2 linked regions of the Homo sapiens genome follow. The protein of the gene in region 2 interacts with the protein of the main gene of each other region in a biochemical or structural test. Each region holds a gene or a part of one and is shown on either strand. Other genes may lie near its edges.

The links. The genes of interacting proteins can lie anywhere in the genome.
Region 1: the proteins of CYFIP1 (region 2) and TCERG1 form a complex in vitro, tested with the Homo sapiens proteins (one study listed by BioGRID).

What each region holds. Positions count from the first base shown.
Region 1 is NC_000005.10:146,457,315-146,464,341, forward strand, and holds part of TCERG1 (transcription elongation regulator 1), read left to right. Parts: coding exon 1-21; intron 22-1,569; coding exon 1,570-2,023; intron 2,024-4,703; exon of another isoform or gene 4,704-4,782; intron 4,783-6,236; coding exon 6,237-6,479; intron 6,480-7,027. UniProt on the Homo sapiens protein: Transcription factor that binds RNA polymerase II and inhibits the elongation of transcripts from target promoters. Regulates transcription elongation in a TATA box-dependent manner.
Region 2 is NC_000015.10:22,914,344-22,921,370, reverse strand, and holds part of CYFIP1 (cytoplasmic FMR1-interacting protein 1), read left to right. Parts: intron 1-2,512; coding exon 2,513-2,679; intron 2,680-3,435; coding exon 3,436-3,583; intron 3,584-4,057; exon of another isoform or gene 4,058-4,359; coding exon of another isoform or gene 4,360-4,740; coding exon 4,741-4,894; intron 4,895-6,488; coding exon 6,489-6,645; intron 6,646-7,027. UniProt on the Homo sapiens protein: Component of the CYFIP1-EIF4E-FMR1 complex which binds to the mRNA cap and mediates translational repression. In the CYFIP1-EIF4E-FMR1 complex this subunit is an adapter between EIF4E and FMR1.

The sequences.
Region 1 (7,027 bases), on a different chromosome or scaffold from region 2:
AATAAAACTCCAGATGGGAAGGTAAATAATAAAATATATTTAAGTTGTCATTTGTTGACAGAGGAGTAAAACTTAAAGAGTTCTGGCAGATTGAGGTCAGTGATACTGTCATTTAAGAATGAGCCCTGGGTGAGCAGGGAATGGGGTAAGACTTCAGGAGAAGCTGACTGGATTTAGTTTTTGTGCAGCAGATATAAGGTTGCCTGGAGTGCTAACACACATTTACCTGTGATTCTGGAAGCTTCTGGTCACATTGGTACCATCTGCCTAGCACATACCAAATTCCAGGCTCCTAGAAGGAAAGCAGGTGTTCAGCGTAGCTGGTTTAGGCACATCGAGCCATTCTTATCAGTAAGGGAATGTCAACCCTCCTGAAATCCAAGTTCTTGGACTCCAGATAAGGGTCAGCAGGGCTTTCTACAGATAGCTGTCTCAGGTCTGTTATGTTGAATTTCTGCATAAAACATAACATGGGTTTTCCTTTGTGCTCATTATAGAAAATTGGGCTGTGGGGTGGAATTACCTATTTTTGTTGTTTTGTTTTTGTTTTTTGAGATGGAAGTTTCACCCTGTCGCCCAGGCTAGAGAGCAGTAGTGCAATGTTGGTTCACTGCAACCTCTGCCTCCTGGATTCAAGCAATTCTCCTGCCTCAGCCTCCTGAGTAGCTGGAGTTACAGGCACCTGCCATCATGCTCGGCTAATTTTTGTATTTTTAATAGAGACAGGGTTTCACCATGTTGGCCAGGCTGGTCTCGAACTCTTGACCTCAGGTAATCCCACCCGCCTTGGCCTCCCATAGTGCTGGGATTACAGGCGTGAGCCACTGTGCCTGGCCCTAAGTTATTTTATTTTATTTTATTTTTTATTTTTTTATTTTTGAGATGGAGTCTCGTGCTGTCACCCAGCCTGGAGTGCAGTGGTGCGATCTTTGGTTCACTGCAACCTCCGCCTCCCGGGTTCAAGTGATTCTCCTTCCTCAGCCTCCCAAGTAGCTGGGATTACAGGCGCCTGCCATCACGTCTAGCTAAATTTTTGTATTTTTAGTAGAGACAGGGTTTTACCATGTTGGCCAGGTTGGTCTCAAACTCCTGACCTCAGGTGATCTGCTCACTTCAGCCTCCCAAAGTGCTGGGATTACAGGTGTGAGCCACCGCGCCCAGCTATTTTTTATTTTTGAGATGGAGTCTCCCTCTGTCACCCAGGCTGGAGTGCAGTGGTATGATCTCGGCGCACTGCAGCCTCCACTTCCTGGGTTCAAGTGATTGTTTTGCCTCAGCCTCCCGAGTAGCTGGGATTACAGATGCCGGCCACCACACCTGGCTAATTTTTTTATATTTTTAGTAGAGATGGGGTTTCACCATTTTGGCCAGGCTGGTTGGTCTTGAACTCCTGACTTTAAGTGATCCACCTGCCTCTGCCTCCCAAAGTGCTGGGATTACAGGAATGAGCCACCACGCCTGGCCCTACGTTATTTTTAAATAGCTTTAAAGATAAAATATGGTTCCATTCTTGTTTTTAATAATAACTGACAGATTTTATGATACCATTGATTTTTGCTTCCGCTGCAGGTTTATTATTATAATGCTCGGACACGTGAATCTGCATGGACCAAGCCAGATGGAGTTAAGGTTATTCAGCAATCAGAACTGACACCTATGCTTGCAGCCCAGGCACAGGTTCAGGCTCAGGCCCAGGCGCAGGCTCAGGCCCAGGCGCAGGCTCAGGCCCAGGCACAAGCTCAGGCCCAGGCTCAGGCTCAGGCCCAGGCCCAGGCCCAGGCCCAGGCCCAGGCCCAAGCCCAAGCCCAGGCCCAGGCTCAGGCTCAGGCACAAGCTCAGGCCCAGGCCCAGGCTCAGGTCCAGGCCCAGGTCCAGGCACAAGTGCAAGCACAAGCAGTTGGAGCTTCCACCCCTACGACCAGTAGCCCAGCACCTGCAGTATCCACTTCAACATCATCATCCACCCCTTCCTCTACCACTTCTACCACAACAACTGCTACTTCAGTTGCGCAGACAGTATCAAGTGAGTACCACTCAGCATGTGTTTTTATATAGGGGCTAGAGACATGAACAAGTAGGGGACTACATTTCATATTGATCCCAGTGTTTCTGGTATTATCCTTTAATACCAGAATTATTTAAAATACATTTTTGACACTAAAACTTTTGGGTTAGAGGAAAACAGGAATTTATATTAACAGGAGAAATTATTTGCCCAGTTGCAGTTTATGAAGCTAAATTGAGAAAGTGCAAAGTTAGCTGTTCCACTTGGCCAACAGTAATGCCGGGCATTGTGGGTTTGCAAAATAAGTGTAAGTCTTGGTCCCTACCTTACAGTTTCCAGTATTCCTAATCGAGGAGGCAAGAATAACACGTGTTAAACAATTAGATATTGGTGTGCAAAACTATACAGTGAGAAAGATGTAAGAATTTGAGAAGTGGATAAATGAGTGGGTGGACTACATGGGTATTTATCATGAAGGAAACGGAGTAGGGTTTAAGCAGGTTCACAGGTAAGGAAAGGATTTTCAGGTAGGAGAAGCAACATGAATAAAGGTCAGGAAAATGATAAATGTAGTTTATGGGTTTTTAGGAAACTTCTGAGGTGAGAGGGTGTTTTTTTTGAAGGGTCTTAAGAACTAGGCAAATAGGTGAGACAGGCACTGGGGGCCTGTATAAATGCAGTATTTTGGAGGATTTTTTTTGGTGTTGGTTTTTTGGGTGGTGATGAAATAAGGGAGGTTTATTAGGAGCTTCTCAGTAATCTCTTTTAGAATAGTTTCTAGACTGGGATGCGAGTAGGTGAATTGAGGAGTTGCCATAGAAGGGAGCAGTCAGAAAGGCAGGAGAATTTTCAGGTGTAAACTCACAGAGGCCCAAAGAGTAGATCTTTTCTGAAAAGGTGAGAGTCGATTAATAGCAGATTTCAGAGATTAAGAGAGGGACACAGCTATTAATTTGCTTAAAAGATTGTTATTAATGTGACAATATTGCTTTCTTTTTGGGGGGTTTCTTTCTTTTTTTCTTTTTTCTTTTTTTTTTTGTATCAATATATGGATGTTGCTCCTTACTCTGCAGGTTGAGACTAAGCCCGAAAGTACTTAAATAATGATTTTTTTATTTGATTATTTGTTATGGCACTTGTCTCAAGATACACAGCTGTCCCTACAGTGTGATTATAATTTGTATTATTTTACTACCAGGATAATTGATAAGAATAAAGAAAAAATGTGGGGTTTTTTTGTGATTACTTCAGGGACTTGGGAATTATTAGTGTGTAAGAAATACGTATAAGAGAGAAATTAATTCACATTGGCTTCAAATTTGAATTTATTTTATTGATAAAAAGCAACTGAAGCAGTCAAGTAAGGTACATATAATATGGGGATAGCCTTTAAAGATCCTCTTAATGGTTTTTAGACATTTTGTAGCGGGGGAATGTACTGAACAGGAAAATATGAATAGTGTTTTACAAATCTGTTTGCTTTTGTAGTGAAGGTGAATTTTGATATGAAAGTATAACAGTCATACTAGCTAGTCTGTTAAGGGTTGTTACCTTTTTATAGGTTTAGTGCTTCCCAAACCTCTGTGGCAAGGCAGGAGACTACCAGTTTTTATGGGAGACCTGTGGTAGTAATGGGAGAAGGGGATTAATAAAAGCAATGTAGTTTTATGTGGAGGCTCTGTGTTGCTTACATTTTCTTTCCTGCGTTCTTAGAAAGGAGAAATAGTAGTGCTTCGTTTTGTTTTAGGAAAGGTGATGAGCTAGATAATTTAACCATACTATATATAGTCCATGTCTGTTTTCAGAGTAGTGTGTCAGTAAGCTCATAGCTGTCTTGTGTCCTGTTTGTCAGTTTTGCTTTACTCTTCAGTGATTGGGAGGACTTTATTCCCAGAAATATAATATAGCAAAATCATATTCTTTTTACTGCTTTTAAACATCAATTTTGATGTTGTCTACGTATTCCAGTGTGTGTTTTTATTTTACTTGATTTAGTATCATAAAGTGTTGTCTTACTGCAATCTTAATATTTCTCCATCTATTATATATAGTCACTTGTCTTTTTTAGTTAAGATCTGAGGCTGGGTTAGTATATTTTGAGGCCTAGTGCTTCACTAGCTACTTTAGCAAATGAAGTTAGTGGGAATTTACCCACTGAAGTCTTAGATACCATTCTCCCAGTTTCCCATTATTTTATTGCTTTTGTTCTTTTCCTGTCGTGACTCATGGCTGCTAATCAAATTCAGAAAATGCTGTGCTGGAAAGTAAGAGGAATGGGTTGTAAATATTTTTTGTCATCTCCATTGGTGTTCTTTTCCACTTGAAATTTGATGCCCTTATTTATTTTCCTGACTATAGTACTTTGGATCACAATTTTAGCAATTATCTGAATACTATAATAATATTTAAATTTTAATTTTCTGAGCTACAGTATAGATCTGTGGGGTAAATGGGACTAAAAATTAAGAATATATTTTAATCCCAGTTGAGCATAAACTCATTTTGTGCAAGTTTGTGAAAAATGATGAAGAAATCCTACTTCTCAGGGAAGTTGGGAACAATGACCAGATACATTTTCAGCCAGTATAGTAGATTACAAATGCTAAATGGTATATGTATGGGACTGGGCAAATGTTGCATGTACTTTGTATTTTTCACACTGTTATAAAATTATATTAATATGATACTGTACCCTAAGGCTAGGTCTATGCTAGACCAACAATTCATTCCTGGGCCCCTGAAGATACTTGTTTGGCCCTGCTGTCTATTTAGCCAAGGTGAGTCCCTCATTAACAAGTACGAAATTGCTCACATCTTCCCAGCCTAAGTGAGTTTTTCATTATTAGAAGCTAGAAAAAGATACTGACAGATTTTGTTGTCAGTTGGATTATTGGGTGATTTGTATTAAATAGTGTGCTTTTGTTTAGAACAAAGTTGGCATAAAGATTGGGAAAGCACTGTTTTCATTTTATTTCATTTGACAAATTCATTCTTAGTCCGATACAGGTAGACATTTTTTTCTTTACATCAAAAAAAGATGAAGTATTTGTTACCAATGAATTACCAAAATGAATTTTATTTTGGAACTAGATGGGTTATGAATAAATAACAAAATTGTTTTGTAACATGTGAGAATTGAAACTGAAAAGTATGAAATAAGGATTTTAGTTTTTAGTTTGATTTTAAATGCAATTACTAGGAATGGGATGTTTTATTTTCGATATTTAAAAATAATGTGTTAGCAGAACCCAAATGATCCTGAATTTCACATTTTCCTGGTCTCTCACAATGGAAACCTCAGTTTAAAAAAATTTTATTTTTTTAAAATAATGAGAGAAACCTGAGTTGTTTTTGATTCCATTCATTCATATCCAGTTAGTCATTAGTTATTTGCTTATCTTTTTCTGTTCTTTTCTTCCTATGCATCTGTGAGGTTAATTCATCAAATGAAACCTGTTTATTACTCTTCCATACAGGAACCTTTAGTTTGCTATATACCCATTTACCTTCATGAAATCACATAAATAATGTGAATGCATTCTTATAAAAAGTTCAAAGTCTAACAAAACGTATATATTAATAGTAAAATGTGAAAGAGGCATTCACAGAGGGTAACTACCATTAATGTATTTTGTCTTGTATTCTACTAGATAATTTTCTCTATATTTACCTAAGTTCTGCCCTTTTCCTATCCATTTAAGGGCATACTCCTTAGCCTTTTGTTCAAGGCTTTCTAATTTCTGCTTCTGGCCTACCTTTCCAGCCACACAACTCACTAGTTTTGTTGGTATGCCTACTGTTTCACTCATTAATTGCTTGCCTTCAATTTTCTAAACAATTCCTTTTGGTTCTTTACTCTTTGCCTTATTCATACTTTTCTCACTGGTTTATTTTTTTCTTCTACCCCTTCCTGCTGTTTTTCTTGTTGAAATCTTAATTTTTCAAGGCGCAGCATCCCAATATAAACTTTTCTATACCCTCTCACAGTTAGAAATGTTCTTTGGGTCTTGATTTTTACTCCTATATGTTTATCCCATTTTACTTTGTATTCATTTTTGTATTTCATTTAAGTATTTTCAAGCTTCTTGAAGATAAGACCTTTTGACAAATTTCTTGCAGTGCATAGAATGGTCCCTTAAATACTTAAATTACTGAATGTGTAAATGATGAATGAATATAGTAAAATGATTTATGAAGGAGTGATACATGTTTTTGTTTTATCTTTTATCAGCACCCACAACACAAGATCAGACCCCAAGTTCTGCTGTTTCAGTTGCCACGCCTACAGTTAGTGTTTCAACTCCTGCTCCTACAGCCACACCTGTGCAAACCGTTCCCCAGCCGCACCCTCAGACGTTACCTCCTGCTGTTCCTCATTCAGTACCTCAGCCAACAACAGCAATACCTGCTTTTCCACCAGTAATGGTACCTCCGTTTCGTGTTCCCCTTCCTGGCATGCCAATTCCACTTCCAGGTAAACCAACAGATTATAATGGTCTTTCCAGCTATGTTTTCATATTGTCAGTTAGTTTGTTCTCATGTGTCTGTTGCGTTTGAAATTTGCCTTGAATCTCACCTGTTTGAAACGTTTTTGAAAGATTCATGGCTAACTGCAATATTTTCTCTTAAGTTTTGGTAAATGTCCTTTTTTTGTTGTTGTTTACATGTCCTAAAATTAGAGCCACATTTAAAGCTACACTTATTTTGGATAATGCCCTCAATGAGTTAAAAATGATTATCTTTTCATGTAAATAATGTTCTAAATGCAATATTTTTGAAGGGTTGAGTTTATGAAGTTGAGAAATCACGTCACAATAGCTAACACAAGTTGGATGATTTATATACAGTGCACTGTTGTAAGCATGTTACATGCATTAACTCCTTTAATTTTTACAACCCATGTTACGAGATAGGTACACAGACAGGTTAAATTACTTGCCCAAGGTCACATAGCTAATAAGTGATGATGTTGAGATTTGAGCCTGTGCCCTCCACATCCAGATAGTAAGCTTTTAATAACTA
Region 2 (7,027 bases):
TTTGAGACAGAGTCTCGCTGTGTCACCTAGGCTGGAGTGTAGTGACGCCATCTCAGCTCACTGCAACCTCCACCTCCCAGTTTCAAGCAGTTCTCCTGCCTTAGCCTCCCAAGTAGCTGGGACTACAGGTGTGCACCACCACACCAGGCTAATTTTTGTATTTTTAGTAGAGACGGGGTTTCACCATATTGGCCAGGCTGGTCTCGAACTCCTGACCTTGTGATCCGCCTGCCTCGGCCTCCCAAAATACTGGGATTACAGGCATGAGCCACTGCGCCCGGGTGCTTTTAGTTATTTTTCTTCGATTTTGGGGGGGTTTATTTTGCTGTTTTCTATAAATTAGTGATGAATGTTTGATAAGTATTATGATTTTTATCCTTTTTAGTTTTCTAATGCGTGCATCTAAAGCTCTCAGTTTGCTGTTAACTTGCCTTTTCCTTCTTCCTGTAAGTGTGAATATGTAGGATTGTTATGTTCACTTAAATGGGTTTTTCCTCGTTTGGTTTTTTAAATAGAACTTTTCTTTTTTGTTGATTGGAAAAACAATATAAAATCATCAGTTTTCCAAAGTAAGCATGCTGAAAACACAAGCATGGCATTAGGAAGGCACAGTGCCTGCGGCGCCATCACAGAGATGGCGCTGAGCAGCTGGGTGCGTTTTCTTCCAGACTTTTTCCTTTCTAAAATTTTCATTATTTTAATTGCATATAGACCATGAGTCTTACATGAAAGCAGTCTATTTGGAAATTCTTTACGTTATAGAAGGATGAATTAAAAGCAGACTGTCAACTTTTCCACCTGAAAATTTCATGAAAAAGAAAAGCACCAAAATCATATAAGCCATGTTTCAAGTACTTGTCAGACACGTCTTCATTTACCCATGAATCAGGCTGTTTATAAAGCCATAATGAGGAACTCAAAAGGTGTGAATAAAACCAGAAAGTGATAGAGGGAGACTGTGTGAAGCCTTGGGGAAACACATTTGTGTTCTTGCTAAGTGAACTTCAAACCAACAGATTTAATAAAAGTAGGAAGATGCCTAGCCAAGCATGGTAGTGCATGCTTATAGAACTAGTTACCCAGGAGGCTGAGGCAGGAGGATCGATTGACCCTGGGAGTTCAAGGCTGCAGTGAGCTATGATCATGCCACTGCACTCCAGTCTGGGCAACAGAGTGAGACCCTGTCTCAAAAAAAAAAAAAAAAAAAAAAAGCTGCCTTAATTTTGAATCTGTCAAATACTTAATTTCAAAAGGTTTTTTTTGTTTGTTTGTTTTTTGTTTTTTTTTATTACTGTGGACTGAAGACCATTTTCAGATGTTGAAGTAGGGTTTTTGTTTTGTTTTGTTTTGAGACAGGGTCTCGCTCTGTCACCCAGGCTGGAGAGCAGTGGCATAGTCATGGCTCACTGCAGCCTCGAACTCCTAGGCTCAAGTGATCCTCCTGGCTTAGCCTCCCGAGTAGCTGGGACTATAGGCTCATGCCACCACACCTGGCTAATTTTTAAATTTTTTGTAGAGATGGGGTCTGGCCATTTTGTTCGGGCTGATCTTGAACTCTGGTCTCAAGTGATTCTCCCGCCTCAGCCTCCCAAAGTGCCAGGATTATGGGTGTGAGCCACTGTGCCTGGCCAAAGAAGGGTTGTTAAGATTTTCCCAAATGTATTAGTCTTAGGTACAGCGTTCTAGTTAAAAGATAAAAAGAAGTGAATTATGTTTCACTGGTGCTATTAAATGTTCCACTTTGGTGTCTTATATGTCAGACATCCACACGGCAGGGTGGACTTGGGGTAAGTGTGTCTTGCTCTGCCTCACTTGCTGCTTTCAGAGAGATTTCTAGGCCTCACATAGCTATCATGAAGTTGGCTGTAGAAATATTTATAAACGGCAAAAGCCGTAAGAAAGCTCATGCAATTGTAAAGGTCATACTTGGTTTGTGACCTTCAATTGTTTATTCAGAAAGTAATAAAGCACACTGTCATGACAAAATTACTGTCTGGAAACAGGGAAATAATGAGCCCTGGCACCATTTTTCTGTCCCAGGAATTCCTTTGGAAGCTCTTTGTCATGTAATTATGTTCCATCAGAGTCTTCCAGGCTTTTTCTGTGAATGGTAGTTCACTGCGCCTTTGTTGTGAACAATATGGGATTTGGACTACAACCTCTTGTAACTTCTTTTTCTAGTAATATCATGCCTGCTTTCCTGAGTCTTTTTCTTCTTTCCTATTTGAATTCCATCACAGGAGGGTGTGCTGGGGTGGATGCATGTGTGTTTCGAGTCAGATGCATCCCTGTCCTCCAGGTGCTCATGGTCTGATGGGGAGTCAGATGCGGGCACAGTTCCATTGACTATGGCTTTGGAGAAGACGTTTTGGGGCAGGGCAGCTGCAGGGCACGAACGCGGGAGGGCGTAAGGTGCTGTGGGCGAGGAGGAGCAGCCCCCGGCATGTGCCAGGCAGAGGAGGCTTGGTGCCATCCCTAAGAAGGGCCGTCCCTGTTGCTGTGTCCCCCGCAGGTGATCGCCATGATCAAAGGCCTGCAGGTGCTGATGGGCAGGATGGAGAGCGTGTTCAACCACGCCATCCGGCACACCGTCTATGCCGCACTGCAGGACTTCTCCCAGGTGACCCTTAGGGAGCCGCTGCGGCAGGCCATCAAGAAGAAGAAGAACGTCATCCAGAGGTCAGCCTTCCCCACGCCCTGTGCCCGCTGTGCCCACACGTCCTCGGATGAACTTGGATTCAAACAACAGGAGCGTTAAATTCTCAAAAATGATTTCAATATATTTATCTTCAACCTTCAGATGCCCTCTTGGTGAATTACCTCTAAAAGTAATGCATGGGTCCAATTATTAACCCAAACAATGGACAGTAAGTCAGCTGCCGAGTGTCTAGGGAGTCTGAGGACCCCGGGACAAGGTGCATTTATCCCAGGCTCGCGGTGCCTGTGGTTCATGCATGGTGCCTTATGGGGGTCTCTGCACGGTGGAGCCCTGTTGGTGATGAGGCTGTGTTCCAAACCAGTCGAGAGACATGGCCAGGCTCTGGTCATGTGGGTGACTTCACATTCCTGTTGGTTACTGGGGACAGCCAGCTGCGGGCAGGCGGGGCCCAGCTCTGCTCCGTGCGGAGGCTGTGTTCTGCCCTCTCCCTGCCCACAGCATGACTCAGAGCCACCTCACTGCTGCCCTGGGCTAACAGATGCGAACTGGAGCTCAGGGCAGTCTTCTGGGGGTAGTAATACTCTCCAGAAGGCAGACTCCTTTTTAACTTTCCTGTTGAGCTGGTCCATTACCACATCCCTCCATGGCCCCCAGAGTAATTTGTATTTTCATGGGGGCTGTTCTGAGAGCCTTGTAGTTGGGTGAGGAGATGGTGTGATTGTGAGGCTGGAGGTCTCGGCCTCTGGGCCTTGCTGATCACTTGGTGGGGTGTTCAGTGTCCTGCAGGCCATCAGGAAGACCGTGTGTGACTGGGAGACGGGGCATGAGCCCTTCAATGACCCAGCCTTGCGGGGCGAGAAGGACCCCAAGAGCGGCTTCGACATAAAAGTACCACGCCGCGCCGTGGGACCCTCCAGCACTCAGGTTCTCGTCCCTTGAGCCCCGCCTGCACCCTCTCCCTGGGGGGACCCACCCTGAGCTGTGAGCGGGTGGGGCTGGTGAGGCCCGGGTTAAATGAGGTCCTCGCTGCCTGCTCAGGCAGAGAAAGTGGCGCCTGTGGTTTCTGCTGCTCCTCTGTTTCCCACCCAAGTGAGTTGGGAGCGTGAGGAGACGTGCCTTGATTGTCAGATGTGTCATGTGCACTAAAAAGGAGTCTGACTCCATTTCAACTCCCATCCCAAAAATGTGGGCACAAGTCCACGTGTCTGTATTCATTCTGTGTTTCTTGATGGGTGTTTGAATGTCTGTATAATTTTTACGTTGGGTCTGCAAATGACTGTAGATGGGGCGTGGGAAACTGTGAGGTGCTGCTTGCGTGTGTCATGGTCCTAAGCTGCCCACTGTCCTCTCTCCTGGTGTGTTCAGGCCTCCCCGAGGTGCTTCTCACGACTTTCACACCCGGTTTAATCCACACCGCTGCGTCTGTCCTCCGTCCTGGGGCTGGTCTTCTCCCTCATCTCTGCCGGAGGCTTTTAATCTCTTCTGCCACTCTTCTGGAAAGTCACCAGCAATGCACGCTGCTGGCTCTGCAGGAGGGTCAGGGGGACGGCCCTCGGCCTGTGCGTGGTGCCAGCCACCCTCCCTGCCTCCCTCTGCGTGCGTCCCGTGTCCCTGCCTGGGGTGTGTGTGTCGAGTGACTAACGTCTCTCTCCTGCCTCTCCCTCCTGTCTGTCCGTGTCTAGCTCTACCTGGTGCGCACCATGGCCGAGTCCTTGGGCTCTGCCGAGCTGCTCAGGCAGCTCAAGTCTCTGGGCATGGAGAGGCTCTTGCATGCGGTTAACACGTTTCTGAGGCAGTCGTGCACCTACCTACCCCTTTTAACCTTTGGTGGTAAGACATCATTTGTTTCTCTTGACGTTTATGGCACGGAGGCGAACTGCTCCGCTACAAGTTGTTCTTTCCCCAAAGCAGCAGCAACGTGGCCGCGTAGACAGGCACCCGGACCCCTCGGGGAGCTGGTGCGGGGCCCTCCCGACCAGGGCGTAGCGGAGCAGTCCTTCTCTCATGGGCTTTTTGAGTTTGGCATAACTAATGTACCATGTATATTTTCTCCCCCACAAATGTTTCCTTGGATAATCCAGCTTTACATGGTGAGAACCATGCTAGAGTCCCTCATTGCAGACAAAAGTGGTTCCAAGAAAACCTTGAGAAGTAGCCTTGAGGGGCCCACCATATTGGACATAGAAAAATTTCATCGAGAGTCATTCTTCTACACTCACTTGATAAATTTCAGTGGTAAGAGATACTGCTGAGCAGCATCCGGCCTGGCATGTCCTAACACCACTAACACCGTCTAGAATGCTTCCGCCCGCCTGACCACCCCCTACCCCGTCCCTTGGTGCACCCAGACGGTGACTCGTCCTGCCCTCTGTGGCGGTGGCTGTACGTCCCTGGCCTGAGCTCGCTCCACAGGGCGTGGTCCCTACAAGGGTATAAACTGAGGAGCCCGGGCTGGCCCTGAGACATGAACAGAAAATCTTTTCAACCCATGCGGGGTTGGAAACAGGCGAATGTAATCTGGTGCCTGAGTTGAGACACAGGCATTGATAAATACTAGAAATGGCCCTTGCAGACCATGACGTGGGGGGAAGGTGGCGGGTGCCCTGTGCCAGGCAAGCCCATCCTGGGTGACACCCGGCCACCTTGACCGGCCACCGGTGGGTGCGCTCTCTGCCCTCCGTGTGTCTGTCCCGTGTTCTCATCAAGTCCTCCGTTGTCCACCTCTTGCTCAGAACAGGATCCCTGCTGTCTTGGCTGGGGTGCTGCGAGGTATTGGAGGAAATAGTACCACTTTTGCTGTTAACTCCATGAAAGGATGGAGTTCGAGTGTGGGCTCTTTTAATCTGTCTCATTTTTGCGTTAGACAGACCTCCCTGAGTGTGCCTCTAATGCTGCAGCCTGGACATTGGTTTTTATCCTAAGTGAAAGTGAAGAAGTCCTGTTTTTTTGTTTTGTTTTTTGTTGAGACGAAGTCTTGCTCTGTCACCCAGGCTAGAGTACAGTGGGGCGATCTCAGCTCACTGCAAGCTCCGCCTCCCAGGTTCAAGAGATTCTCCTCCCTCAGCCTCCCAAGTAGCTGGGATTATAGGTGCTCACCACTGCGCCTGGCTAATTTTTGTATTTTTAGTAGAGATGGGGTTTTACCATGTTGGCCAGGCTGGTCTCAAACTCCTGACCTTGTGATCCACCCGCCTCGGCCTCCCAAAGTGCTAGGATTACAGGCGTGAGCCACTGTGCCCAGCCAGAAGTCCTGTTTTTATGTCTCCTTTTGAGAAGAACATTTTTAGGTAAGACACAGTGGCTCATACCTGTTAATCCTAACACTTTGGGAAGCCAAGGCAGGAGAATCACTTGAATTCGGGAGTTTGAGACCAGCCTGGGCAACATGGCGAGACCCCCATCTCTATAAAAAATACAAAATCAGTTGGTGGCACGTGCCTGTGTTCTCAGCTACTTGGGAGGCTGAGGCAGGAGGATCGCTTGAGCCCAGGAGTTGAAGGCTGCAGTAAGCTATGATCGCGCCACTCACCTCCAGCCTGGGTGACAGAGTGAGATAGACTCTGTCTCAAAAAAAAAAAAAAGACACTTTCCCCCTGGATCCCACTGAAGGGCTCACAGGGTTGATGAGGTGGCTTTACCTGCAGCTATGCCCAGCTGGTCCTGTCCCTAGTGCAAGGCCCCGGTGACCCCTCCCCACTCATGTCCATGCTGCATGGCTTGGGGCTGAGCGAGGAGGAGCAGGCACCCAGCACACAGCCCTTGTGTCATCTCTGCTAAAGGTTTTTTTTTGCTTGCGGGAGATAACATGGAGTTGTTTGAACCCTCCCAGAAACGCTGCAGCAGTGCTGTGACCTTTCGCAGCTGTGGTTCCGAGAGTTCTTCCTGGAGCTGACCATGGGCAGGAGGATCCAGTTCCCCATTGAGATGTCGATGCCCTGGATCCTGACGGACCACATCCTGGAGACCAAGGAGGCATCGATGATGGAGTGCGTGTCCTGCGGGCCTGTCTCCAGCCTTTGTGTGTGGTGACCGGGGGTCCTCAGAGGAGGTGGCGGAGAGGCCGGGACTGTTTTTAGTATTGTATTTGAAATCAAGTTTCTGGGCCTGGGCAAAATAGCAAGACCCCAGTCTCTACAAAAATGAGAAAACTTAGCCTGGTGTGGTGGCTGATGCGGGAGGATTGCTTTACCACAGAAATTTGTGGCTGCATTGAGCTATGGATTGCACCACTGCATTCCAGCCTGGCCACGTAGCAAGACCCTGTCTCCAAATAAAAAAAAAAAAAAGAGAAATCATGTTTCCTGGGGTAAAGCTTTAGAGATTAATACAAGTAACTAACCAGTTTCTTGGTGTCAGACTGGAATTGAG